4 linked regions of the Homo sapiens genome follow. The protein of the gene in region 3 binds, or shares a complex with, the protein of the main gene of each other region. Each region holds a gene or a part of one and is shown on either strand. Other genes may lie near its edges. The genes, in order: CCND1, CDKN1A, CDK4 and CCND3. A codon is read from its position in the direction of its gene.

Evidence for each region.
Region 1: the proteins of CDK4 (region 3) and CCND1 are in contact, whole or in part, in a crystal structure (PDB 2W96), measured with the Homo sapiens proteins. Residues at the interface, in NP_000066.1 of Homo sapiens: Gly45 (codon at 4,795), Gly48 (codon at 4,804), Leu49 (codon at 4,807), Ile51 (codon at 4,813), Thr53 (codon at 4,819), Val54 (codon at 4,822), Arg55 (codon at 4,825), Val57 (codon at 4,831), Ala58 (codon at 4,834), Leu59 (codon at 4,837), Arg61 (codon at 4,843), Arg62 (codon at 4,846), Ala65 (codon at 4,855), Phe66 (codon at 4,858), Asp76 (codon at 5,045), Val77 (codon at 5,048), Cys78 (codon at 5,051), Ala79 (codon at 5,054), Arg82 (codon at 5,063), Ile87 (codon at 5,078), Val89 (codon at 5,084), Asp129 (codon at 5,320), His132 (codon at 5,329), Ala133 (codon at 5,332), Asn134 (codon at 5,335), Cys135 (codon at 5,338), Ser285, Phe287, Arg288; in NP_444284.1 of Homo sapiens: Leu6 (codon at 2,839), Cys7 (codon at 2,836), Cys8 (codon at 2,833), Glu9 (codon at 2,830), Val10 (codon at 2,827), Thr12 (codon at 2,821), Ile13 (codon at 2,818), Ala30 (codon at 2,767), Lys33 (codon at 2,758), Ala34 (codon at 2,755), Thr37 (codon at 2,746), Phe108 (codon at 1,014), Lys112 (codon at 1,002), Met113 (codon at 999), Glu115 (codon at 993), Pro118 (codon at 984), Leu119 (codon at 981), Thr120 (codon at 978), Ala121 (codon at 975), Leu138 (codon at 924), Gln139 (codon at 336), Glu141 (codon at 330), Leu142 (codon at 327), Val145 (codon at 318), Asn146 (codon at 315), Lys149 (codon at 306), Trp150 (codon at 303), Asn151 (codon at 300), Leu152 (codon at 297), Ala153 (codon at 294).
Region 2: the proteins of CDK4 (region 3) and CDKN1A are in contact, whole or in part, in a crystal structure (PDB 6P8H), measured with the Homo sapiens proteins. Residues at the interface, in NP_000066.1 of Homo sapiens: Gly18 (codon at 4,714), Thr19 (codon at 4,717), Val20 (codon at 4,720), Tyr21 (codon at 4,723), Lys22 (codon at 4,726), Ala23 (codon at 4,729), Asp25 (codon at 4,735), Val32 (codon at 4,756), Leu34 (codon at 4,762), Ser36 (codon at 4,768), Met75 (codon at 5,042), Asp76 (codon at 5,045), Cys78 (codon at 5,051), Ala79 (codon at 5,054), Thr80 (codon at 5,057), Lys88 (codon at 5,081), Thr90 (codon at 5,087), Val92 (codon at 5,093); in NP_000380.1 of Homo sapiens: Met38 (codon at 3,643), Cys41 (codon at 3,634), Ile42 (codon at 3,631), Ala45 (codon at 3,622), Arg48 (codon at 3,613), Trp49 (codon at 3,610), Phe51 (codon at 3,604), Phe53 (codon at 3,598), Val54 (codon at 3,595), Glu56 (codon at 3,589), Asp62 (codon at 3,571), Phe63 (codon at 3,568), Ala64 (codon at 3,565), Trp65 (codon at 3,562), Glu66 (codon at 3,559), Arg67 (codon at 3,556).
Region 4: the proteins of CDK4 (region 3) and CCND3 are in contact, whole or in part, in a crystal structure (PDB 7SJ3), measured with the Homo sapiens proteins. Residues at the interface, in NP_000066.1 of Homo sapiens: Gly46 (codon at 4,798), Gly47 (codon at 4,801), Gly48 (codon at 4,804), Leu49 (codon at 4,807), Ile51 (codon at 4,813), Thr53 (codon at 4,819), Val54 (codon at 4,822), Arg55 (codon at 4,825), Val57 (codon at 4,831), Ala58 (codon at 4,834), Leu59 (codon at 4,837), Arg61 (codon at 4,843), Arg62 (codon at 4,846), Glu64 (codon at 4,852), Ala65 (codon at 4,855), Phe66 (codon at 4,858), Val77 (codon at 5,048), Ala79 (codon at 5,054), Val89 (codon at 5,084), Asp129 (codon at 5,320), His132 (codon at 5,329), Ala133 (codon at 5,332), Asn134 (codon at 5,335), Cys135 (codon at 5,338), Arg163 (codon at 5,422), Ile164 (codon at 5,425), Tyr165 (codon at 5,428), Ser166 (codon at 5,431), Tyr167 (codon at 5,434), Gln168 (codon at 5,437); in NP_001751.1 of Homo sapiens: His11, Pro13, Arg14, Ala15, Gly16, Pro17, Asp18, Arg20, Leu21, Arg26, Val27, Ser30, Leu31, Arg33, Leu34, Arg37, Tyr38, Glu74, Lys112, Leu113, Arg114, Glu115, Thr116, Pro118, Ile121, Glu122, Pro134, Arg138, Glu141 (codon at 2,954), Val142 (codon at 2,951).

Annotation. Positions count from the first base shown.
Region 1 is NC_000011.10:69,636,256-69,644,167, reverse strand, and holds the start of CCND1 (G1/S-specific cyclin-D1), read right to left. Parts: upstream 3,013-7,912; 5' UTR 2,855-3,012; coding exon 2,657-2,854; intron 1,138-2,656; coding exon 922-1,137; intron 337-921; coding exon 177-336; intron 1-176. UniProt on the Homo sapiens protein: Regulatory component of the cyclin D1-CDK4 (DC) complex that phosphorylates and inhibits members of the retinoblastoma (RB) protein family including RB1 and regulates the cell-cycle during G(1)/S transition.
Region 2 is NC_000006.12:36,681,714-36,687,855, reverse strand, and holds the end of CDKN1A (cyclin-dependent kinase inhibitor 1), read right to left. Parts: intron 3,760-6,142; coding exon of another isoform or gene 3,755-3,759; coding exon 3,310-3,754; coding exon of another isoform or gene 3,211-3,309; intron 2,405-3,210; coding exon of another isoform or gene 2,346-2,404; exon of another isoform or gene 2,106-2,345; coding exon 2,056-2,105; 3' UTR 524-2,055; downstream 1-523. UniProt on the Homo sapiens protein: Plays an important role in controlling cell cycle progression and DNA damage-induced G2 arrest. Involved in p53/TP53 mediated inhibition of cellular proliferation in response to DNA damage.
Region 3 is NC_000012.12:57,749,288-57,756,379, reverse strand, and holds the start of CDK4 (cyclin-dependent kinase 4), read left to right. Parts: upstream 1-4,069; 5' UTR 4,070-4,205; intron 4,206-4,643; 5' UTR 4,644-4,662; coding exon 4,663-4,880; intron 4,881-5,037; coding exon 5,038-5,173; intron 5,174-5,289; coding exon 5,290-5,457; intron 5,458-5,614; coding exon 5,615-5,724; intron 5,725-6,160; exon of another isoform or gene 6,161-6,875; coding exon 6,876-6,926; exon of another isoform or gene 6,927-7,062; coding exon 7,063-7,092. Other genes in the region: E3 ubiquitin-protein ligase MARCHF9, read right to left, coding at 495-851.
Region 4 is NC_000006.12:41,934,435-41,938,814, forward strand, and holds the end of CCND3 (G1/S-specific cyclin-D3), read right to left. Parts: exon of another isoform or gene 3,732-4,380; intron 2,961-3,731; coding exon 2,801-2,960; intron 2,262-2,800; coding exon 2,125-2,261; intron 1,674-2,124; coding exon 1,506-1,673; coding exon of another isoform or gene 1,417-1,505; 3' UTR 518-1,416; downstream 1-517. UniProt on the Homo sapiens protein: Regulatory component of the cyclin D3-CDK4 (DC) complex that phosphorylates and inhibits members of the retinoblastoma (RB) protein family including RB1 and regulates the cell-cycle during G(1)/S transition.

The sequences.
Region 1 (7,912 bases), on a different chromosome or scaffold from region 3:
CGCGACAAACAATCCAGGGCCTCTGCTCACCAGAGCTGGAAGAGCGCTCTCCAGCGCAGGAGGGGGTCTGGGGACATCTTCCCAGACAGCACCCAGGTGGAGAGCAAGAAGCCGGCCAGGGTCACCTAAGGAGCCGGCTCTCAAGGGGAGGCCGGGGGCTGCCGGGCCTGCCCTACCTGTGGCACAGAGGGCAACGAAGGTCTGCGCGTGTTTGCGGATGATCTGTTTGTTCTCCTCCGCCTCTGGCATTTTGGAGAGGAAGTGTTCAATGAAATCGTGCGGGGTCATTGCGGCCAGGTTCCACTTGAGCTTGTTCACCAGGAGCAGCTCCATTTGCTGCGAACACAGGGTGAGCGGCCATCAGGGGAGGTGCGGGCCAGCCCGGGGGCGCGGGGAAGCCGGCAGCACGGGGGCCGGGCCACGCCGCACCTCCGGCTCAGAGCACTGGCCCCTGCGTCTCGTGCGGTCCTGGATGTTGGAGGGGAGGGCTGGCGAATGCTGGGGACTCAAGGGAGCTGGGGCAACACGCAATCCCAGATCAAAACAGAAAAGGCGCCCGCCGCGTGAAAAGACTCTGCAAGTGGAAACAAAAAGACCTCCCACCACCTGGAACTGGAGGCTCAGCGCCGAGCGCGGCGCTCCTCGTGCAGCCGCTGGAGGGCGCGCGCCGCCCACTTTTCGGCCACACCGCGGGGCGCGAACGCGGTGGGAGTCGCAGGCAAGCGCACACAGGGCGGCGGGACGAGGGCGGCTAGGATCCCGCCCGCTCCCCGGACAGGGACGCCCGGCGGCGGGGCCGCCCTCCCTCGGAGGAGCAGATATGTCAGAGGCGGGCCGGCCGCCACCGCCTGCACCTTCCCCGGCCCCGTGGTCCTGCGTGCGGCTCGCGGGGGGCGGGGGGCGGCGGGGTCCAGTGGTTACCAGCAGCTCCTCGGGCCGGATGGAGTTGTCGGTGTAGATGCACAGCTTCTCGGCCGTCAGGGGGATGGTCTCCTTCATCTTAGAGGCCACGAACATGCAAGTGGCCCCCAGCAGCTGCAGGCGGCTCTTTTTCACGGGCTCCAGCGACAGGAAGCGGTCCAGGTAGTTCATGGCCAGCGGGAAGACCTCCTCCTCGCACTTCTGTTCCTCGCAGACCTACGGAGGCACGGGGCCCGTGACCGCCGCCGCCAGGTCGCGCCGCCCCCCCGCACGCCCCCGCACCCCCCATCGCGCTTGGCAGGGCCGCCAGGTCTGGAGGGCGCCGAGGGGTCGGGGCTGGGGGCGGCAGGAGCTTCCCGTGATGCGCCCCCTCCCCCGCGCGTCCCCAGTACCCACCCTCCCCGAAACTGAAAGGGAAAGTCCCCGCGAGGCTGGCACGGTGGGGGCGGGAGCGGGCACAGCTGGGCGGCGTGCGCGGCGGCGCGGGCTGCCGGCCCCCGGGACCCTGGCCCGCCCTGGAGCTCCGTGGTCCCTCTGACTGGGGGTCGACACCAACTGGGGTGCGGGGCCGCGGAACGGGCCGCGGGGTTGGGCGCCGCGCCTGCGAGACACAAAGGTGGCGTCCCAGGCCGCCGCGCCGCATTTCCCCAGACGTCATCTTTTCAAAAAATATTTAAAAATATTAAAAAAATAACTAAGTGCATAAAAAAACCCTGAAAATGACCCTCGGGCGACCCTTTACCCAGGCCGGGGGTTGGGAGTTCGTTACAGGCTCCGGGGGGAGCCCCAGGAATTCAAACTCCGGGGCCCCCCCTTCCCCCTGGGCGCGGGCGGCGTTTCCCTCTCGCAAGGGCACCACGCCGCACTTTCAAAAATTATTTTAAAATACTTGCGGGCCCCTCAGGCGCCCACCGAAGGTCTGAAAATGTGCTCCCAGGCCCCCGGCTCGCTCGGAGAAGGTCCTCCAAGCCGATATCCCTGCAGACGGGGATCAAGCCCTGGCGTCTTGGGGGCCACGCGACCTTGCAGCTCGCCGTGCTCTCCGGCCCAGGCTGCCCGTTCGGGGCGCCCCGGGACTCGCTGCTTGAACAAAGGCCCCCCCTTCCCTAGCGGCGTCCCCCCAAAACTACCCATGCCGCGTCCCTGCGCCCCTCCCGCGGGCTCCCGGCAGCCGCGCGGCCCTTAGCTGCGGCCCCAGCGCCCGGCGGCCGCTCCCCGCCCCCACCCTGCCCCCAATTATTAATAAACACTTTTGCTTTGCAATAAAAGAGCAAAGATGGCGCATAATACTGGCACGAGCGGCCCTTGCATACGTGTCCATGGATATTAATTTAAAAATCAAATCTATGCCCCCTCCCCCCGGAGTTGGCGGCTCCCGGCCGCTGAGGCGCAGCCGGGCTGGGGCGCAGGCGGGGGACACAAAGCGCACCCAGCCTGCCAGCCCGCACCCTCGGGCCCATTGGGGTGCCCCTGGCACTGGCTTCTCCCGAAGGCACCCCTCCCGGACCCCCTTCTCCCCTCCCACGAAACGCTACTTCTAGCACCCCCACCCCCACCCCTTCCTCCTTCAGAAAATACCCGCAATTTTTATTTTGAAAATACGGATCCCTAGAAACACCACGGCAAACTTCAAAGTTCTAGCGGGAGAGAAGGGAGGGGGGTGAGTAGCAAAGAAACGTGGGTCTGGGCAACAAGTTGCAGGGAAGTCTTAAGAGAGCCGCCCGAAGCCCCGCACCTCCAGCATCCAGGTGGCGACGATCTTCCGCATGGACGGCAGGACCTCCTTCTGCACACATTTGAAGTAGGACACCGAGGGCGCGCAGGTCTCCTCCGCCTTCAGCATGGCCCGCAGCACCCGGTCGTTGAGGAGGTTGGCATCGGGGTACGCGCGGCGGATGGTTTCCACTTCGCAGCACAGGAGCTGGTGTTCCATGGCTGGGGCTCTTCCTGGGCAGCTGGGGAGGGCTGTGGGTCCTGGCTGGGTCCGCGCTCGGCTCTCGCTTCTGCTGCCCCGCGCTCCCTCGCGCTCTTCTGCCCCTCGCCGGAGCGTGCGGACTCTGCTGCTCGCTGCTACTGCGCCGACAGCCCTCTGGAGGCTCCAGGACTTTGCAACTTCAACAAAACTCCCCTGTAGTCCGTGTGACGTTACTGTTGTTAAGCAAAGATCAAAGCCCGGCAGAGAATGGGAGCGGGAGGGGGGCGGGGGCGGGCGCAGGGGGAGGGGGCGCGGGCGCCAAACGCCGGGAGCAGCGAGGGGCAGAGCCCAAAAGCCATCCCTGAGGCGCCGCGCCTGCCCTGCGGCGGAGTTGCCCCTGTAGTCCGGTTTTCATAGAAATGCAAATCGCCCCGCTGCAGCCTTTCTCCCCGCCAGGGAAGAGGGGTGCAGGGGGCCCCGTCCGCCTCGAGTGGGTCCCCCGGGATTTAGGGGGTGAGGTGGAGGTGGCTCTGCAGTAGGGGACAACTAGGAAGGCCGGCAGGCCACACGCAGCCTGGGGAGACCACGAGAAGGGGTGACTGGGGCGCGGCGACACCCCATATCCAAGCCGGCAGAATGGGCGCATTTCCAAGAACGCCACGAGGGCACCCACGGGCGGACAGACGGCCAAAGAATCTCAGCGACTGCATCTTCTTTCATTTTCATTAACACGTGTAAATTGCAAGAACTAATTTAGCATGCAAGGACGGGGAGGACCGGGCACACAACCCCTGTGCAAGTTTCATTCCGGCGCACAGGGGCGTCGTTGCAAATGCCCAAGGGGGTAACCCTAAAAGTTAAAGGGATTTCAGCTTAGCATGCGCTCGCTCAAAAAATAAAATAAAATAAATGCCCGAAAATTCCAGCAGCAGCCCAAGATGGTGGCCAGCATTTCCTTCATCTTGTCCTTCTAGCCTGGAGACTCTTCGGGCTGCCTTCCTACCTTGACCAGTCGGTCCTTGCGGGGGTCCCCAACTGCACCCCCTCCCTTCCCGTGCCGGCAATTTAACCGGGAGAAACACACCTCTGAATGGAAAGCTGAGAAACAGTGATCTCCATTCTGACTCATTTTTTTTAATTAAAAAAGAAATTAAATTGCTGGAAATATTAGTCCCCTCTGCCTGGGACAAGACCACCGAAGGTTCCTAATTGGTTTTGTTGGGGGTGTAGACGTCCCTTCACCTTTAGAATTTGCCCTGGGACTGAATTCGTGAGCGTGAGGGGGCTGGCAGGAGCCGGCATAATTCAGAACAATTATCAATTAAACAAACGAGTGTACTGATCTGATTTTTAGCAAAATCGATAGGTGTTCGTGGTTACATGAGAGGGTCCCCAATATTATCGCAAACTTAAGCAGATGTAAATTAAAATACACAGTTTTTAAAATTACAGGTTCTGTCTCTTTGGTGCATTAAAAAATAAAAGGACATTTTACTGTCTTAACTTTTGTTTTTATTTTTACAGTACCTGCCCCAAATTAAGAAAACTGTTCATTTACTTCCTTTTGAATATAGTTCAGTGTCATCAAACCACCGTACCCTCTTAACAGTAAAAGCTCAAAGAAAACTGATAGAAAAAGCCCTCTCCCCTTCGCCAGGGTGCTCACAGCAAGATGCGACCCCCCCCACCCCCACCTTTCAGGGTGAATTCCTCCCGCGCCCCCTCCCCCGCCGGGAATTAGGATTACTAATATTCCGGGTCCTGGGGGGGTAATTACCCCCGGATTCCGCATGGGGAGCGATGGGTTGCCCCAGCAGGGAGCACCTACGGTCGTGCCCCCCCCCACTCCCCGAGCACCCACAATCGCGTTGGCCCCCGCATAGCCAAGCCTCAGAGCATCAGCCCGCGCACAAGGGCGGCCCAGCTGCTTTTTCATTCATAAAATCCCGACCCGGCGGCCGCCTGGATGATTTATGGGGCCCGGAGCTATCACCCGGCCTCTCCCATCCCGTGGGGCGAGGGGCCCCGAGCCCCGCGTGCGCCCTGGCCCAGCCCGAGGCGCGAAGCGGGCCGAAGTCGGCTAGGGGCAGCAGGGCATAAAGAGGCTCGCCCACTCCGGCACAACCGGCTCTGGGTCCAGGAGGGAGCTTCACCCCCCCATCCCGGGCGCAAGACAGAGGAAACTGGAATTAGCATGAGCCAATGGGGGCGCGGCGCTGTTACTAGGCGGACCGGGCAGATCTCGACTAGGAACTTCGTTGATTTCCCGGCTCAGGGACGAGCGCAAAATTGCAAGCCCGGTTAGCGAGCGTAAAGAGCCGTCCAGGAACCCGCGGGGGAGGCGCTGGAATTTGGGGCCCGGCGCTGGAATTTGGGGCCCGGCGGGGAGCGCCAGCTGCCCAGCCCCCACCTGGGGGAACCCTGCTTGGCGGCCCCCGGGTCCCCCGAGGGGGCCAATACCTCTGGGCTTTTGAGGGTCATTGCTTCAAGAAGCGCAGAGAAAGCATTTTGATTTTATTTTTTCCAAAGAGAAAAGCAACTTTAAAAAACTTTTCGGTTGCAGTTTTACTTTACACTGTCTTCTTAAAACCCACCACGAAGCAGGAACTGCGGATTCTGGGCTCATTTAAAGTGCTCTGTTCTTATTTCTTGGTGACCATTTGGAGACAAAGGGCAAGTGGCCCAGTCGGGAGGGTAACCACGTTGTTTGAAAGAAAATCCAAAATTAACTGAAATCACCTTCACGCTTTCCTCGCCCCCTGGCCCCCGCCCCGGTGACCGCGGCCTGGGCGGATGGTCGGTCAGGAGAAAGCGAATTCCGCTGCAGGCGCGTGTTCGCCACCGTCCCTGGCTGTGGGAACCTTCATTCAGGCGGGGGAAGGGAGCGCGTTCATTCAGGAACCGGCGCGCCGCGACGCAGACCCCGGGACTCAGCGCGGCTGCGCGCCGCGGGGCTCGGGGCTTGGGTTGGGGGCGGGTGGTGCAGGGACCAGTCCCGACCTTTCGCCAGCGACCTCCCGCACCCGCTTTTCCACCAGGGCGGCTGGCGGGCGGGCGCACCCAGGTGGGGTCACCTGCAGCCGCATACCTGGCGGCGACTTGAAAGGACTTGGCTCAGGCTCCGCGAGTTTTCCATTGTTAAGCCCTTAAGTCGCCCGGGAAAACGCTTCCGAAAGCCGGCCCCTGGGCTCCGAAGGCGCTCGAGCTCCCCTTCCCCCCACACTGCTTGCTTTTGGGGTGCGCGTGGCGGCCCACGTGCTATGGCAGCTCTGCTTCGCTTACGTAGCGCCGATCCCAGGCGCCCCAAAACTGCGAGGTGGGCCGGGGCGAACTCCGGCCCCAGTGCCCACCCGAGACAGCCACACGCTCGGCACATGGACAGCCGCACCGCCCCCCCCATCGCCCCAACCGCAGACGTGCGTTTCCGCTCCAGATCAATTAGTTTCAGCCACACACAGACCACCCTGCCACCGCCCCTCCCGTGCCCCAGTCGTCTGTCCGGCGGGCTGCGGGGAAACGAGACCCCTCCCCTAGCTCCGAGGGCTGCCGGCAAGGTGTGCGCTGGAGTTAAAACGCAAACCCAACAGGTAGGGGGGCGGCCCTGGCTCCAACGACGCATCTGGGATCCCGAGGCTGAAGGCGCAACTCTTGAGGGTTAAAGGCGATTCTAATTCCTCGACTCCCGCCCCTCAAAACGCATCGGCTGGTACCCTGAGCAATATGAACCCCCAAATCCACCAGAGATTCCCTGGCCTTCCGGCCCCAGCCCCTCTCAGACCAAGTGGTGGGGAGTAGGCGCCCAGATCGAGAAGAAAACCACTTCCGACCACAGGAGAGAAAGCTGGCTGGGGGTGACCTCGGAGGTCACGTTCGGCCCTCTCCCCCGCAGTCAGGCCTGGCCGCGGCCCACCCGAGGCTGAGCAGACCCCCGCGTCGGACGGAGACGCAGGGCTTCGCTGCGGGACTCGCGGGGCCTAGGAAACCTGCGGCGGCGGCTCGCGGGAGCCGGTTTTCCGGCGGAGGATCCGCGCTGAGGCCCTCGTGGGCTCCCACGGCATGCCCCACTCCGGAACTTGCCGCGCCCTCCCCCGCCCTTTCCGGAAGACTGCGGGGAGGACCCCGCATCCCCGCGCCTCTCCAGCTCGCTCCTCAATGCCCTTGGAACGCTTGAAAGCGCTTCCATCCCTCGCTTTGGCACTTGGGGGTGGGTGGAGGGACAGCGGGGTCGTTATTACGGGGCGCCTTAGAGTTCTGGTTATCCGGACACTCAACAAGCAGGGGAGGGGAGGGAAAGGGAGTTTTTTTCCAGGTGCGGGGAAACGGGTTGCGTACCTAATGCCCCGCGCCCTTCCCCTGGGGTCCCTGGAGCCCGTGCCTTAAGGGCTGGGGGCAGGACTCGGATTCGGACCCCTTAGGGAATTCTGGGTCCTCAGGGTCTGAGGGACTGATGGGCCGCGCTCGGTCCCCAAGCCCCTTCTGTGTGTTCACGCGGGGCACGACTTGCCCAGCGAGTTCTGGGCGGCAGGGCCAGGGCCGGGGTGCGGCTGGGAGAGGTGAGGGGAGGAGGCGAGAGCGCGCGCCGCCGGACCCTGGGCCGTGGCTCGGGAACCGCGCGAGGCCGCGCCGCGCATTCCGCGCATTCCCGCCGGGCCTCGGTTCCACCGCCACGTGGTTGCCCTGCGTCCGCGTTTACCGTAAGGCTTAGAAAAAGCGCGCATTACGGTTCCGGAGCGCATGCGGACCTCCCAGGACGCTTAACTCGAGCACCAGTCCAGCTGTGGTGCCGAACATACTCCTTCCCTGCGGGTAGATAGGGGCTGCTTTTTTACGTAATAAGGCGGGTTGTACTGCTGGAGCGATAGCATGTTCATCTGTAAAGACGGGCAGGAAGGAGTGTGCTCGGCCCTACTGGAATCCGTAATAAGGCGACTGTCCGGCTGAAGAAAGTGACAGAACCGGGCCGTGACCATTCCACCTTCTCAGCGGTGGTAAAGCACCAAATAGCAGCTGCAGCCTTCCGATGGCGTCCAGTGCACTGTGGCTGGAAAGCTCGGAGCAAGAAGGTGCTTAACAAAT
Region 2 (6,142 bases), on a different chromosome or scaffold from region 3:
TGTATTTTTAGTAGAGATTTCACCATGTTGGCCAGGCTGGTCTTGAACCCTTGGCCTCAAGTGATCTCCTGCCTCAGCCTCCCGAAGCACTGGGATTCTAGGTGTGAGCCACTGCGCCCGGCCCAAACAGTTTTTTTAAATAAGAGATCCAGTTGCTCCATAACCTTGCCAATGCTTGGCACTGTCAGTCTTTTTTAATCATTCTGGTAAGTGTATGGTGGTATCTTATTGTGGTATCTTAATTTGCATTTATCTGATGAATAATGATGTTAAGCTATAATATATTCTTTACAAAAAGATTACACAACAAACCAAAATATTGACATTGGTGATCTTTGCAGAGGTGTGACAGTAGTTTTTGTTTTGCTGTTGTTTTTTGCAGCAGTCTTTCTGTTTGCTAAGTTTTCTGCATTCTCTAAATTTAAATGCTTAATTTTTAAAATTATTTAATTATGAAATCCTTCCCAAAAGCCCATTTATTTGTTCTTATAAGGTATAATAACCACAATAGTAATATTACAAGTAAAGTCACTAAGAATCATTTATTGAGCACCTGCTGTATATTCAGCATTGTGGGAGGAGCTGTGAAAGACACAGAACAGTACAGGGTGTGGTCCCTGCCCTCGAGAGGTTTACAGTCTAGGTGGAGAAACGGGAACCAGGACACATGGGGAGCCGAGAGAAAACAGTCCAGGCCAGTATGTTACAGGAGCTGGAAGGTGTTTGGGGTCAGACCCCAATACTCCAAGTACACTAAGCACTTCAGTGCCTCCAGGGGCTCAACGTTAGTGCCAGGAAAGACAACTACTCCCAGCCCCATATGAGCCCACGTGGCATGCCCTGTCCATAGCCTCTACTGCCACCATCTTAAAATGTCTGACTCCTTGTTCCGCTGCTAATCAAAGTGCAATGAACTGGGGAGGGATGGGGTGGATGAGGAAGGTCGCTGGACGATTTGAGGGGCCAGTGTCTCCCTCCTAGAAAGATCTACTCCCCCATCATATACCCCTAACACAGAGATAACCCCACTCAAGGGGGCCTGTGCCACCACATGGGACCCTCACCCCCACAGCTAGAGGAGGGGGCGGTCGCTGCTTGAGCTGCCTGAGGTAGAACTAGGGTGCCCTTCTTCTTGTGTGTCCCTTCCCCTTCCAGTCCATTGAGCTGGGGGTGGGGGTGGGACAGGCACCTCAGAGCCACCTGGAGCTGAGAGGGTACTGAAGGGAAAGGACAAGGGGGAGGGACAGCAGCAGAGGGGAATTGCAGAGCCCAGCTGGAGAAAAAGGGTAGCTGGGGCTCCTCAAAAGGTACAGGGGAGCCAAAGAGGGAAAAGGCTCAACACTGAGACGGGCTCCCCAGTGCAGGTCAGAGGGGCCATGAGGGCAGGCGGGGTGGTCTGCTCCAGGACCCCACCTTCCCCCTGCCTTCACAAGACAGAGGGGGGTATCAAGAGCCAGGAGGGTACCAGGTCCCCAGCTCAGCCCTAGGCTGTGCTCACTTCAGGGTCACCCTGCCCAACCTTAGAGGAGGTGAGGGGACTCCAAAGTTTTTGATGATGCCCCCACTCGGTGAGGCCCCTTCAAAGTGCCATCTGTTTACTTCTCAAATGAAAAAGAATTCAGGTCTGAGTGTCCAGGAAAGGGGGTGAATTTCATAACCGCCTGTGACAGCGATGGGAAGGAGCCACACCCCTCCAGAGGGTACCACCCAGCGGACAAGTGGGGAGGAGGAAGTAGCTGGCATGAAGCCGGCCCACCCAACCTCCGGGAGAGAGGAAAAGGAGAACACGGGATGAGGAGGCTTTAAATAGTATTTCATAAAATAAAAATGCCCAGCACTCTTAGGAACCTCTCATTCAACCGCCTAGTTTTTGTTTAAATAATTCTAATGCCAGAGGCTGGGGGGCAGGGGGCGGCCAGGGTATGTACATGAGGAGGTGTTTAAATTAAAACACAAATAATAATTAAGACACACAAACTGAGACTAAGGCAGAAGATGTAGAGCGGGCCTTTGAGGCCCTCGCGCTTCCAGGACTGCAGGCTTCCTGTGGGCGGATTAGGGCTTCCTCTTGGAGAAGATCAGCCGGCGTTTGGAGTGGTAGAAATCTGAGGAGAGACAGCAGAAGTCAGCCAGGCCAAGAAGAAGAGGACGCGGCGGAGCTGCCCAACTGAGGAAGACAGTGGGGGGCCAGGACACCCTTCCCTGGGGCCAATGGGGCCGACTGCTGAGAACAGGAAGAACTCGGGGAACGTCCACTCTGTCTCTTGAGGGGTATTATGGAGTGTCCCACCATGCTTCACAGATGTGATTTTATCCATCACCGCACCCGCACCCATGGGTCTGCTCTAAGTCAAGCTGCCCAGCAGAGGAACCACTACTAGCTCTGTGTGCTTGTTTAAACAGACTACAATCAAATAAAATGAACAATTCAGTTCCTCAGTCACATGAGCTGTGTGTCAAATGCACAACAGCCGTATGTGGCTCGTGGCCCCTGTACCGGACACTCCCATCCCTGCAGAGTTACTGGACAGTGCTGATCTAGGGATTCTGTTACAAAATCCATGAAAGTGTTCAGCACAATGCCGGGCCCATATAAACGTCAGTAGTTGTTGTTATTATAATTAGTCTTGACCCAACGGCAAATTCACTTTGAGACCTTAGATAAATCACTCTACCTCTCTGAGCCTGGTTTCCTTGCCCTAAAAGGATGGCAAGGGGCTGGGCATGGTGGCTCACGCCTGTAATCACAACACTTTGGGAGGCTGAGGCAGGAGGACTGCTTGAGCTCAGGAGTTCAAGACCAGCCCGGGCAACATGGTGAGACCTTGTCTCTACAAAAACTCAAAAAATTAACCGGGCGTAGTGGTGTACAACTATAGTCCCAGCTTCCCAGCTACCCAGGAGGCTGAGGTAGGAAGATCGCTTGAGCCCAGGAGTTTGAAGCTGCAGTGAGCCATGATCGTATCACTGCACTCCAGTCTGGCCAACAGAGTTAAGACACCTGTCTCAAAAAGAAAGGCGGGCAGGGTGACAAGAATGTCTTATGTTATAACATTGCTATAAGGACTAAATAAATCTACCTTAGAAGCTTGGCAAAGGGCCTGGCATAATGAACATTCCCAATAAATGTTAGCTAGTTGGTCTTTGCTGCCTACTTGCTGTGTGACCTCAGGGAGGTTGCTTCCCCTCTCTGGGCCTGTTTCCTTCTACCTGGAGCATGCTGGACCAGGACCAGACAGGTCAGCCCTTGGACCATGGATTCTGAGAATCCTGGTCCCTTACAAAGTCCTTCCGTGCACATGTCCGCACCTGTCATGCTGGTCTGCCGCCGTTTTCGACCCTGAGAGTCTCCAGGTCCACCTGGGGACCCTTCAGCCTGCTCCCCTGAGCGAGGCACAAGGGTACAAGACAGTGACAGGTCCACATGGTCTTCCTCTGCTGTCCCCTGCAGCAGAGCAGGTGAGGTGCCAGGCCGCCTGCCTCCTCCCAACTCATCCCGGCCTCGCCGGGGCCCCGTGGGAAGGTAGAGCTTGGGCAGGCCAAGGCCCCGCACACGCTCCCAGGCGAAGTCACCCTCCAGTGGTGTCTCGGTGACAAAGTCGAAGTTCCATCGCTCACGGGCCTCCTGGATGCAGCCCGCCATTAGCGCATCACAGTCGCGGCTCAGCTGCTCGCTGTCCACTGGGCCGAAGAGGCGGCGGCAGGCCTTGCTGCCGCATGGGTTCTGACGGACATCCCCAGCCGGTTCTGACATGGCGCCTGCAGCAGAGATACAAGGAAGGCCCTGGTCACGGCGGAGATTAGACACTATGTTACCTGGCCGGGCTTTGCTGTGTCACCTCAGGTGACGTCTTCCTACCAGAGGGTCTCTCTCACTCCTTCCAGCTGGTCTTCCTGCTTCCTTCCCACAGGAGGCCTGACCCCCACCAGCAGAGCTCAGCCAGCCTGGCACACCAAGGTCACTGGGAGAGCAGGCAACTGAAGGGCAAGCTAATGTCAACAAAGGCAAGTCTATTGCAAGAGCAAGGACCAGGGTCCTGTTTGCCACCAGGTATTATCAGCTAAAATCAATTTGTTTTCCCCCCAGAGGTGTCCCTCATGGGTGTGAATGCCCCCCAAATATGTGTGAATTGCCAGAGTCCAGCAGTTTCCTAATCGCAGCCCTGGCCAGAAGGTCAATTCCCAAAAGAAGAAACAGTCTGACAGTTCCTCCAGCCTCCTAAGTCCCCCGACCCAGATCCCCAAGTAGGGTAACCCTGCTCTGCCAAGTAAAAGTACCCGGGACTTTGGGGCAAAAAGCACCCGGGTTGTGGTCCTAGCTCTGCCAGTTACTACGTAAGCTTTAAAAAGCCACTTAATGTCTCTAGGTCTCAGTTTCCTCATCCATAAATGGGGCCATGTACAAGTTTAAAGAGCATGGCTACAGACACATACTCAAGAAATTGATCACAGAGTCCATGCAGCAAGGCAGACAGAACAGAGCTGAATGAAAGGCTGTATCCTGGTGGTTAAGCAGGAGGGCTCTGGAGCCAGATCACCTGGGCTGGAGTCCAGGTTTTACTAGGTGACCCTGGGCAAGCAACTTAACTTGTCTGAGCTCTAGTTTCCTCATCTATAAAATGGGGATAGTAATAGTGACTGTCTCAGAGGATAGACATGAGAATTAACTGAGTTAATGTAGGTAACGTGCCAGCAGCACTTCGTATAGAGAAGTGCATTGAAAACAGAAGTATGATTATTCCTCTCTGCCTTCAGTTTTACTGAGCCTCCCCCCTATCACTTCCCCCTGCCAACTACCTCCTTCAGACAGCAGCTGACAGGTGCTGTAGGCTGAGGGCCTTTCCCAAGGATGTCGTCAGGCGGGTGGCCTAGGGGTAAGGAGGGGCCGGGCGGGGCAGCGCAAGGGATGATTTCTCCCAGGCTGAGCCACATCCTGCCAGGCACATCAGGTGATCTGAAGTCTAGACACCTGGCAGCCCCTGCCTCGTGTTGCCTGTGTCCAAGGAAACCGTTTTGCAGGCAAAAAGAAAATTAAAGGTGGCTGGTCTACCTGGCTCCTCTCCTCCCCCTTCAGGAGAGGGAAAACGGAGAGTGAGTTTGCCCATGAGGGAGCCCTGGCACCTACCTGCCTGCTCTGGCTTGACTCCAGGGCTGAGTGACTGCACGACCTTGGCAGCAACTGGATTTTCCTAGGGACAAGTCCCAACTTGCAGTTTCTGGGGGTGAAAGCTCTGCTGAGTCCTCATGAGGCAGGAAGCCCGGGACACATGCCACATCTGCTCCACCCCACCTCACCCCACTGCTTGTGATCAGTGGAGCCCACAGTTTCACGTCCCAGCTGGTTGGGAGAGGAGGCTCTTGGTAACTTCACACCAAGTTTAAAGGGCAGGAGATGGAAGAGATATGAGACTTGCCCCTGAGTCATACAGCTAAAAAGGCCAAAGGCCACTGCCCCATAAAGGGGTCACCCAGTACAGTGGACAGAGCCCTCAAATAACCTCTATCCACCCTCTGCTAGGCATGAGTTGGGATTTATTTATATATTTTTATGTTTGGGGGCTGTTCTAAGCAGTTTAAAAATATCAATCCTCCTAAAAAGTGGATATCTATTAGCTCCCTTTTTACAGAAGAGGCAACCAAGGCTCAGATAAGTTAAGTAACTTGCCTAACATCACACAGTTCATAAGTGGCACAGCCAGGATCTGAACCCAGGCCTGTTTGCCCTGAGTCCTGTGCTGTAGTATTGAACCCCACTCCCTCTCTAATTTTGAGGTTTCTTAACCAGAGAGGCCCATCACAATCACTTGGGGAGGCCAGGGGCAGTGGCTTATGCCTGTAATCCTAATACTCTGGGAGGCAGAGGTGGGAGAATCATTTGAGCCCAAGGGTCCAAGACTAGCCTGGGCAACTAGCTGAGACCCTGTCTCTACTAAAAATAAAAATAAATAAAAATTAGCTGGGTGGTTGGGTGCAGTGTCTCACACCTGTAATCCCAGCACTTTGGGAGGCCGAGGAGGGCGGAGCACGAGGTCAGGAGATTGAGACCATCCTGGCTAACACGGTGAAACCCCGTCTCTACTAAAAATACAAAAAAAAATTAGCCGGGCATGATGGCAGCACCTGTAGTCCCAGCTACTCGGGA
Region 3 (7,092 bases):
GGGACAACTTTGCCCATAAAATTTTAACAAAGAATACTCTTTAGAATGAGATAGAAAGTTGCAGAATGGGAAGTGAAAAAAAGTGCCCCACGGGGAGAAATACTGAGCTAAGCAAGGGCGCTGGCTGGGCCCCTCCCTTCAAGGGGGGCACAGAAGCACTCTCCTTTCTGCCCACCTGCAAGAGAACAGGTCCCCTTAGCTTACGGAGACCCTGGGGCGAGGGAAATAGGAGAGAACAGCAGTCCCTGTTAATGGGTGAGAGGGATTTTGCGCTCTCCGGGGAGAAAGCCCCACCCCTTCCTGGGGACCCTTGACCCTCCGACACAAACAAGCGCTCCAGGAGTCCCCTGCCAGCCCCTCGGCCTCACCCCATTCCCACTCCGTGTCCTGGGGCCCGCCCAGCCTCCTTAGGCGCCGCGCCTGCTCGCGGTCTCCGCTGACACCCCAGGTGCGCGCCTCCACCCTCCGCGCCCGGCCAGGTGCCCAGGCCTGACCTGCTCCGGGCCCTGGAAGCAGATCCGGCACTGAGGGGTTCGGAGTCCGCTGTCCAGGCTACTGCTGAGCGACAGGGCGTCCAGCGCGCCCGGGGGCGGCAGCGGCGGCGCGGGCGGCGGCAGGGGTCCGGCCCGCGGCTCCTTGTCGCCGGCCAGGCCCCGGGCCCGCGGCTCCGACCCGTAGTACTCCTCCTCGTCGCCGTCGCCGTCCCGGGTGGAGCAGCCAGCGAAGGGCGCCCAGCCGCAGCCGCCTCCCCGGCCCCCCCGGGGTTGCGGCTCGGCCCGGGGCCGCCCCCCGCCTGTCAGCACCAGCAGCTTCAGCTCGTTCAGAAACATGCGGAGCCGAGACTTGAGCATCGTCCGGACACCGGGGGCGGGGGGCAGCGTGCAAGGGGGGCTCGCTAGCGGCGGGGGGAGGGGAGAGGACAAGGCCGGGAAGGGGGCGCGCGCTAGAGAGCCGAGCCGGGCCGGGGTCTTCGGGGCCTGCGACAGCCGTTCACTGCTGCCACCGCCGGGGCTCCGGTGCTTGCGGGGCCGAGCGGGCTGGCGGCCCGGGGGCGGCGGGGTGGGCGGCCATGGCCAGGGCAGGGGGCGGGGAGGGGGGCTCAGGGTGCCGCACCCCGCGGGTCTGGGTCTGGAGCGGGCCGGGCCCCCGGGGTTACGCGCCCGGGTCCTCCTGCGGCGGGGCCGCCCCCCATCGCCGTTCTCTCGGTCCCAGTCCCCCTCCGGCTCCGGGATCAGGCTTGGCTCGGCCCGTGCGCTCGGCGGTGGCAAATGGCGGCTCCTTCCGGCGGCGGCGGCGGCGGAGACCCCCCCGGAGTGGCGGGCGGGCGGGGCGGGCGCCGGGGAGCGGGTGAAGGATGGAGGGAGGGGCGGGGCGGGGAGGGGGAGAGGAGAAGGGGCCGCGGCTGCGCATCCCCGCCCTGCCCCGCACGAGCAGGTGTCCCAGGGGCGGGGGCAAGTGTGGGATCCCGAGGAGGGTGGAGGAAGGGGAGTGGCCAAGGAAGGGGAGTGTGCACACAAGTTGACTAGGTGTGTGTCTGGGAGTGGGGGATGAGCGGGTGAGCATGGAAGGTGAGTGGTTAAATGACGCAGGTGTACCAGGGAGGGTGAGGCTTGTGCAAAATGGGAATGTGCAAAGAAAGAGCTGTGCAAGTGTCGGAGGTGTGAGGGAGGTACATGGGCAGGGGTGGGACTCAAGCAATATACACTTTACCCAAAGGGCTGAAAAGTGTGATCGATGGGGACTGGGAAAGAGAGGTGTGTAAGGAATGGAATCGGATTGTCTGAGAAACAGAAGCCTGTGATTGTAATGTGTGAAGGAGGTGAGGGAGGGAGCAGGGGAGGTAGGCGTGCTAAAGGGATGGGAGTGTCTTTCCTGGTACTCTCCTGCCCTCACCTCCACTACACTGAAGTGAACAATACACACACTTACCCCTTTCCTTTTATGGAGACTTCCCTCTGAGGCCAAGTTCTACCCCCATCACATTTTTTTCTTTCTTACACTTACATTCTCCCTCTCCTCCCCTTTGCAAAGCTGAGGGAAAAGGGATTCCAGGGGAGCTCATTGGGTCAAACATACTGGGAAAAAATTTAATTAGTGAAAGAGTAATTAACAGAAGAAGGGAGGGGACAGAGCCTGGGACAGACTGCCAAATTAAGGTTCCTCAATAGAAAGTGATGGAGAGACAGTAATGTTCCCATGAAGTATTCAAATGTTTTGGATGGACTAATGAATGAATCAGAAAAAGGGGCTGGGACCCAAGCAGACAGAGAGGACGTCTTCTGTTGCAAAGACAGTAAGCTGTGAAGGTCTTATGTGGAAGGTGAGGCTGAAGTGGGGAATGCTGGTGTGGGAAGGGAGTTTGAAAAACTCACAGACAATTATCTTAGCCTTCCAGAAGGCTTACAAAGCACCCACCCCTAGCAAGGTAGCCAATAAAACATTCACCTCTTGAGCCCCTTAGTCAGTTCAGTCCTTGAGGTTTTTCTTACTAGTGTTCCAGCTGCCCTTGCCAGGAGGGGCCCAGGGCTACAAGTATCAGGATGGAAAGAGGAGGCATCTGTATTAATATGTATTCTATTTTGCTCTAAGTCATGGTTTATATTCATCTTCTAGTTTGAACTCTTATATTCTCAGCCAGATGGTTAAGGAAAACAGAAGTTAGAGTGGAAGGAGTGGCAAATAGGGTAATAAAATGGCTTTAGATTTTAGACAAATTCTCACAAATGAGACACTAACCGCTTTCCTCCTTTACTCCCATACCCCCAAAGGGCTGGGAGATAAAGACCTTGGAGCCAATAAAACAAAGTAGGAGAAATCTACTTGTGTCTACCTAGGTGTCTGGGCAGAGGCCATTTGGGAACAAGTGTGTTCTGGACAGTGCTAAGTGCTAAGAAAGCGGCACTAGGGAAAAAGAGGGAAGCACAATAACTCCAAATGAGTAGTCACAAGGTTTGCAGAAGGGGGCATGTCATTTTCATTCATTGTGGTGGTCTGGAGGGTGCAGGGGGTGTGGTGGTAACTTTCTTGCACATGTGCAATCCTGTATCCGTCTTATATATGATGTGATAAATAATATCATATACATACATATATACATAGAAGCATATATGCACACATACAAATATCACATAATCATAGAACCTTCCTACTGGAAAAAAAAAAAAAACTTAAAAGGTCAAGTATTCCTGTCTCCTGCTCATCAATAACTTCTCTGCCAGATGGCCTCAGGTCTTTGCATTAACACTCCCAGGGAGGTTTGGAAGTTGGAAAAGTGAGAGGATTACCTTGTCACTGAGCCTGTTGGATTACTGTATTAATCTGCCTTCCGTCATCCTTTAATCGTAGTTTTGCCCTCAAATGGGCATTGTTTACTCCCTATTGTAGAAGACCCCATTGTTGGCTACATCTTTATAGATAGTCGTACCACTACTTTAAAGGGCCAGTGACAGACACCAAAAACAAAATAAAAACCCACATACACACTGGAAGCAAGCACTCAGTAAAATGTTGTAGAATTAATGAATGAAACAATGACACAAATGAGAGTATGTTTTCTCATGGTGGAGCGAAAAGGTGACAGCATCACCTCTGGTACCCCAACTCCCACCCCCTCCCCAATGCAGACAGGCTGAAAGACCGGTAGTGAGACTGGAGTTCAGCCTTCAGACCGGTAGTGAGACAATCCTTCAGCCGGGAGTTGGGCTCTGGGTGGCCTAGGTTGCCATGGCACCGCCTCGGGCTCCACCCTCTCTTGTCCCCCTCACCGCTCCCCCCCTGCAGCGGGGGTTGTGGCAGCCAGTCACGTGCCCGCCGCGTAGCCACACCTCTGCTCCTCAGAGCAATGTCAAGCGGTCACGTGTGATAGCAACAGATCACGTGGCTGCCATCGCCCCTCCGCCCCCTTACACTCTTCGCCCTCCTCCCAGTCGAAGCACCTCCTGTCCGCCCCTCAGCGCATGGGTGGCGGTCACGTGCCCAGAACGTCCGGCGTTCGCCCCGCCCTCCCAGTTTCCGCGCGCCTCTTTGGCAGCTGGTCACATGGTGAGGGTGGGGGTGAGGGGGCCTCTCTAGCTTGCGGCCTGTGTCTATGGTCGGGCCCTCTGCGTCCAGCTGCTCCGGACCGAGCTCGGGTGTATGGGGCCGTAGGAACCGGCTCCGGGGCCCCGATAACGGGCCGCCCCCACAGCACCCCGGGCTGGCGTGAGGTAAGTGCAGTCCCTTCCCAGGAATGAGAACCAGTGCCCGCCCCCCTCACAGCTTTCCACGCGTTCGTTTCGCGAGCTGGTTATGGAAGGGTCGCTCAAGGGCGGGAAGTGGGGCCTTTGTGGTCATGGGAAAGTATAATTTTAGGGACTGAGGTGTAGGATCTTCGATGCAAGGCATGTGTCATGTGTGATCTTTGTGCGGGGCGCGATTGTCCCAAAGGAAAAAGCGTTTTCTATTGCAGGGCCTCACGTGGCTGGAGGGGTTGGTATTGAGTCATTGTGTTATCTCTGGGGCCGGCCCCAAGGAAGACTGGGAGCGGGGGATGGGATGCTGGTGGTGTTCTTTGCGCTTTTTTTTTGGGAGTCCCTTTGTTGCTGCAGGCTCATACCATCCTAACTCTGTAAGCGACTTTTGGTGATAGGAGTCTGTGATTGTAGGGTCTCCCTTGATCTGAGAATGGCTACCTCTCGATATGAGCCAGTGGCTGAAATTGGTGTCGGTGCCTATGGGACAGTGTACAAGGCCCGTGATCCCCACAGTGGCCACTTTGTGGCCCTCAAGAGTGTGAGAGTCCCCAATGGAGGAGGAGGTGGAGGAGGCCTTCCCATCAGCACAGTTCGTGAGGTGGCTTTACTGAGGCGACTGGAGGCTTTTGAGCATCCCAATGTTGTCCGGTGAGAAGGTGGTGGAGGGTTGGGCGTGGGGAGTAAAGGGAAAAGACAGCCTATAGGTGGGGTGTGATGATCTGTAGAGAAGTGGGGACCCTGAGGAAATAATGAGAGGCCATGTTGGGTTAAAGGGGATTGAAAAGTGAGCATTTACTCTGGTCAGGCTGATGGACGTCTGTGCCACATCCCGAACTGACCGGGAGATCAAGGTAACCCTGGTGTTTGAGCATGTAGACCAGGACCTAAGGACATATCTGGACAAGGCACCCCCACCAGGCTTGCCAGCCGAAACGATCAAGGTGAGTGGGGTTGGTAGGCATTGAGAGGTGGATTGGGACCTTTGTAGTAGAACCTTCTGGGATTTCAGGTATGGTGCCTAGTTTCCAGTGCATCTGTACCTCCCCTTTGAAACTAGGATCTGATGCGCCAGTTTCTAAGAGGCCTAGATTTCCTTCATGCCAATTGCATCGTTCACCGAGATCTGAAGCCAGAGAACATTCTGGTGACAAGTGGTGGAACAGTCAAGCTGGCTGACTTTGGCCTGGCCAGAATCTACAGCTACCAGATGGCACTTACACCCGTGGTCAGTAGAAAGATGGTACCAAAATGGGTTCTGGTTGGGAGTAGGAGAGTGATTGCCCGTAGCAATTGAGAAGTCATGTGCTTCATGTGTTCAGTCAAGCAAGTTGTGTTTCATGGTAACCCATGGGGTCCCCATCCATTCTTCCTATTCCCTTTAGGTTGTTACACTCTGGTACCGAGCTCCCGAAGTTCTTCTGCAGTCCACATATGCAACACCTGTGGACATGTGGAGTGTTGGCTGTATCTTTGCAGAGATGTTTCGTCGAAAGTATGGGACCCACATACCCTGGACTACCTTGAATTCCCCAAATCGCTTGTTCATAAACCACATCCATACCTTGCCCATTCTTTTTTTTTGAGACCAGGGCTTGCTGTGTTGCCCAGGCTGGATTGCAATGGCATGATCACAGCTCACTGCAGCTTCAACCTCCTGGGCTCAAGTGATCCTCCCATCTCAGCTTCCCAACTAGCTGACACTACAGGCACGCACCTCCATGCTTGGCTAGTTTGTTAATATTTTTATAGAGATGGGGTCTCAGTATATTGCCCAGGCTGGTCTTGAACTCTTGCACTCAAGCAATCCTCCCACCCCTACCTCCCAAAGTAGCATAAGCTACTGCATCTGGCCCCATTCTTTTACTTGCGTACTACTAACTTGCCCATAGCAGAAAGCTCTGAAATGTTCTGGAATTAGGAACTTCATATCCCTTTATTCTCTTTATTTTTTATTTATTTATTTATTTATTTATTTATTTATTTATTTATTTATTGAGATAAGGTTTCACTCTGTCACCCAGGCTGGAGTGCAGTGGCCCAATTACAGCTCACTGTAGCCTCTACCTCCTGGGCTAAAGCAATCCTCCCATCTCAGCCTCTTGAGTAGCTGAGACTACAGGTGCACGCCACCATGACTGGCTTTTTTTTTTTTTAGATGGAGTCTTGCTCTGTCGCCAGGCTGGAGTGCAGTAGTGCGATCTCTGCTCACTGCAACCTCCACCTCCCAGATTCAAGCAATTCTCTTGACTCAGCCTCCCAAGTAGCTGGGACCACAGGTGCACGCCACCATGCTCAGCTAATTTTTGTACTTTTAGTAATGACAGGGTTTCACCATGTTGGCCAGGATGGTCTCGATCTCTTGACCTCATGATCCACCCACATCAGACTCCCAAAGTGCTAGGATTACAGGCGTGAGCCGCTGCACCTGGCATTTCTTTTTTTTTAAAAAAAGAGACAAGGTCTTGCTTGCCCAGGCTGATCTAGAACTCCTGGGCTCAAGCAGTCCTCTCACCTCAGCATCCCAAAGTGCTGGAATTGTTGGCCTTTATTCCCTATACTTCCTATTTTGAGCCACTAAGCAGTAACCATTCAACTAAGATATCTTTGAAAATGACTGCTACCTTATATCCCTTCTCACCTTAGGCCTCTCTTCTGTGGAAACTCTGAAGCCGACCAGTTGGGCAAAATCTTTGAGTAAGTGACCAACATGGGAGAAAAAGATTTTCTATTCTGAGTCCTCTTTCTGCTGAACCCAGGATGGCAACTGGCTCTGCCCATGGGGATGGGAACTGGAGGACCCTCCTGACCAGAGTTCTCCTGTCCCCCACAGCCTGATTGGGCTGCCTCCAGAGGATGACTG
Region 4 (4,380 bases), on a different chromosome or scaffold from region 3:
ATGGGAAACTGTATCTAGCTGAACCAAGCCTAAGTAGTACACAAAACTCACACCTAAACATGTACCAGCTACCTCACTCATCTCCCCACCTGTGTTGAGCAACCCTTCCGACGTCCACTTCCAAAAGCAAAGTGCATGTCTTCAAGATAAAAGGCCATATTTATTGTGATATAATTTCTCAACCATTTGACATATGTAAAAACCAAGCTATCCTTTTTTTTTAAATGTGTCACTCATTTGAGTGTTGTGCTTCAAGCCCCATTTTTCCCATGAGACCTGTGGTCTTTATTGTGCAATTTTGCATGGCATAGTGATTTTTAGGAACGCATAGGTCACATTATAAAGCAGAACTGACTATATTTGGGTCAGAGACCATGTACCCCACAAAGCCTAAATATCCAGCCCTTTACAGAAAAGGCTCAATGATCCCTGCTTTAGACCATTGACTTCCACCTCCTTACCTCATACAGTGCAGAAATAGACTTACCCACACACCAATCCAAGAAGCCAAAGCCAGTTTTATTTCACAATCATCTTTATTACAGTAGGATGATGGTCCTGGGCCACCAGCCTAAACCTTGCAGCCTTAGGAAAGACCTGTGTCAACAGGGCTTGCCTCCCTCTCTAGACAGGGGCTCAGCCACCTCCAGGGCATCCCTGCTGCATTTTCCCTGCTGGAGGATGGGGCAGAGGGACAATGGGAGAGGAGGGCATGACCCCACCCCAGGCTATAGCAGCTCCTTGGCCACAAAGATCCTTTTGCCAGTAGCAGAAGGGAGGAAAACAGCAACCACCAGGGTTACCACCACTTGTGGGATGGCCAGGACCCCATTATGTCCTCTTAAAGTTGTGCTCAAAGCAATTAATAAATTAAAATGAGCCTTCAGCAGCAAAGCTGTCAATCACACAGGAGAAGCTGAGCAGAAAGCAAAGCAAAGAGGAATTTATAGCTTCTCTGGCTGAGGCCTAGGCCCCTCCCTCTAGGAGCAGCTGTCAGCACGGACTACATAGGGGCCTCCAAAGTACTGAGAGGAGCCATCTAGACTATTCCCCCTCATATGTGTCTATCATGCATTAAATTTTAGAGGGACCCCAATCCAAATGCAATAACCCTAGAAGGGACAACACCTTTAGAAGGCACTAGAGCATTTTGGCAGTTGAAAACATGAGAGCCCCCAGGGGTGGGGGGGGGCGTTCAAAAGGAATGCTGGTGTATGTATCCAATTCTGTCCCATCAGCCTGGCCCACCCCCAGCTAGAGTTGGGAAAGGCGCTGCTGGTCAGATGCAGGGAGGAGGAGCTTGACTAGCCACCGAAATGCAGACATGGCTGGCCGGGCCCCTTAGTGCACACTGCGGGGATGGGTAGGACCAGATCCCTTGGGCTTTGTGAAGGGGGAACAGACGCCCCTTCAGGCTTAGATGTGGTGTGGTTCCTGGAGGCAGGGAGGTGGGTGGCAGCGGCCCCTCCTCTGCTTAGTGGCCACTCCAGAGGGCCTCTCCAGGGCTACAGGTGTATGGCTGTGACATCTGTAGGAGTGCTGGTCTGGCTGGGCCCTTGGCTGCTGGAGCCCCGGGGGGCTTTGGGCGCTGGGCTGGAGCTGGTCTGAGAGGCTTCCCTGAGGCTCTCCCTGAGTGCAGCTTCGATCTGCTCCTGACAGGCCCGCAGGCAGTCCTGGGAACATGGGAGAAGAGTGAGGAGCAAACACTCCCCCCATAGCATCTGGCAGCAGGTGCAGGGGAAGGACAGCTCCCAACACATGGGGAAGTCTGGGGAGGTTAGGCCACAGCCCGGCCCCAGGAATCGCTCTTTAGTTCTCAGAAACTAGCAAGAGGATGTGGCAAGGGAGTGTGAGAGCAGCCCTGCATCTGACACCAAACCCCCCACCCCCACTCCAGCACACCACTTGGCAAGAAAAGAACCCCTAGGGCCAGTGCCCTTCACCCCACCCAAGATACTTGCTCTTCCCCAGACCAAGGCAGGAGATAAAAAGCCACAAAGCCCCAAGGTTGTGAAACCAGGACTTGGGACCAGGTTGGGGTTGGAGGTTTCCCTCTACTGGAGGCTCAGGGCATAGCACTACTTTATGAATGGAGAGGCTGCTGCCCAGCTACCCAGCACTCACCACTTCAGTGCCAGTGATCCCTGCCAGCAGCTCTGTGAGCTCATCCCCGGACATGGAGCAGGCACCCAGGCCTTGCACTGCAGCCCCAATGCTGCCCGTGGCGATCATGGATGGCGGGTACATGGCAAAGGTATAATCTTGGAGAGGAGGAAAGGGAACCATGAGAGAAGGAAACCTGAAGGATAACGGCCAGCATGGACTTCCGACTCCTTGGAAAGTGCCAGGCAGCATGAGTAGAGCAGAGGACATGCTGGAAAACTCCAGCAGTGGGTGGGGCAAGATATCAGCAAGGGAGGAAGACAGGAAAGAGTATCTTTCCTAGAGATCAGAACCAACTGCCAGTTTCCATAGGTCCCGGGAATAGACAAGACACTCCCTAGTATGGGAACACAACTAGGGCCAAGAGACTGGGGTTCTGTTCCCAACCTGTTCACTGTGAGACCTTGGGCAAGTCACTTCTCTCTATACCCTCAGTGTCCCCACTACAAACTGGAGGGGTCTGAGATCCCATATAGCTGATTATAACCTGCTTTTCTGCATTGAGACTGGGGGCTCAGAGGGGGTATAATTTTCACAAAGGAATTTTGACAGTATAAACCAGAATCTTCAGTTACCTCTCACCCTTATAAGTCTTCTGATTTTTCCAATTTGGCAAAAATGTGCATAGGGCTCTTACCTGTAGCACAGAGGGCCAAAAAGGTCTGGGCATGCTTTTTGACCAAGGCCTGTCGGTCACGGGGCAGAGAGAGCCGGTGCAGAATGAAGGCCAGGAAATCATGTGCAATCACAGCAGCCAGGTCCCACTTGAGCTTCCCTAGGACCAGCACCTCCCAGTCCTGAAAAAGCGGGGAAAGGGTGGGGTCAGTGGCTGGAGAAGTGAAGAGGAGGGAGCAAAGCAGAAGTCTCAAAGTCTCAGGCAGGGAAGCCCATCAAACTTTTAAAGCCCAAGACCCCAGTTCTGTTTCTGATTTTAAGGCCGGGCACCATGGAGTTCAAGGCAGGGAAGAGGAGGAGGCATGTGCTTTGAGCACTTACTGATCATTTACTAGGTGCCAGGACAACATGCTTTACATGGATTATCCCTTTTAATCCTGTCTGGTTATGTTTAAGGGGCCAATAATCCAGGCCTTCTCCTGACTTCATTCAGGGCTCTGAGGATTTCTCCAGCCAGGGCTGAAAGACGGAAGCAGCAGATACCACAGCATCACCATGAACTGGGCTCTCTTCTGGGATGAAGCAGAAAGACTCTCTCAACCCCAAGGATTTGTGAAAGGGGAGATCACCACTAGCTTCCCCTGCAACTCTGCATCCCAGCCAAGTCCACACTTCTTGAATCAACAGAAGGGAGTATGACTCCTCCAATGACAGCCACAGAGCCTTTTCTCAGGTTCCTCAAAGGGGAGATTGCCCAACCCAAGCCACATCCCCTTGGTAGGATATCAGGGATGGGTCCTGAGGTATAGCACCCCACCCCACCCCCTTTAGCTGGAACCCGTAGTGCCCCATGCCACTTGACTTTCAGGAGGATAGGTAGAGGCCAAGCCAGACAGGATGGCTCCAAATGATTCCAGAGGGATCAAGCCCTATCCTCACCTACCCAAGCCTACCTGCCAGTACTAGGTCTCGGGAGAAGGCTGGGAGCTCCACCCCAGTCCACTCGTCATGGGTTCCCAGACCTGGCCCCATTTCTGAGTTGCACACATGAGGATTTCTTCATTGTTTTATCTCAGGAAGGAACTTGTGGGTTTGACTCCTTATTGAGGCAGAAATGGCAACCCCACCCAACCTCTTCCAGGCCCCAGCCACAGCTGTCTCTCTCTTGGCCCCAGCTTAGGTGTCAGCCTCTCAAATCAACCCCTACCCTCACAGAGCCCCAGAGAAAATAGCCTGGCCTGGAGCCAGAAGTGAGACAGATAAATTACAACGCTACCCCTAGTGCATGTCCCAGGAGCCAACTCCTAACTCAGCAGTAAACAGAAGGGACTCAGCTTCTAAGGAAGCATCTGGAAGGCAACTGGGAGTGGGACTCTCCCTATGGGGAGGCAAGGGGTTGTGTTTGAGGGAAAGTGGCCACCTTTCCCCATATCCAGGCAACCAGAGAATCCCAGTGTTAACTGGTGGAGAACACACCCCTGGGAGTGCTTAGCTTCAGTAGGTGGCAGCGGCCATCACATTCCTGACTTTTAAGGCAACCTGGTCTAGCTAGAAGACCCAGGTTCTACACTCATCTGCTCAGTGCGATGCTGAGGCAGGACC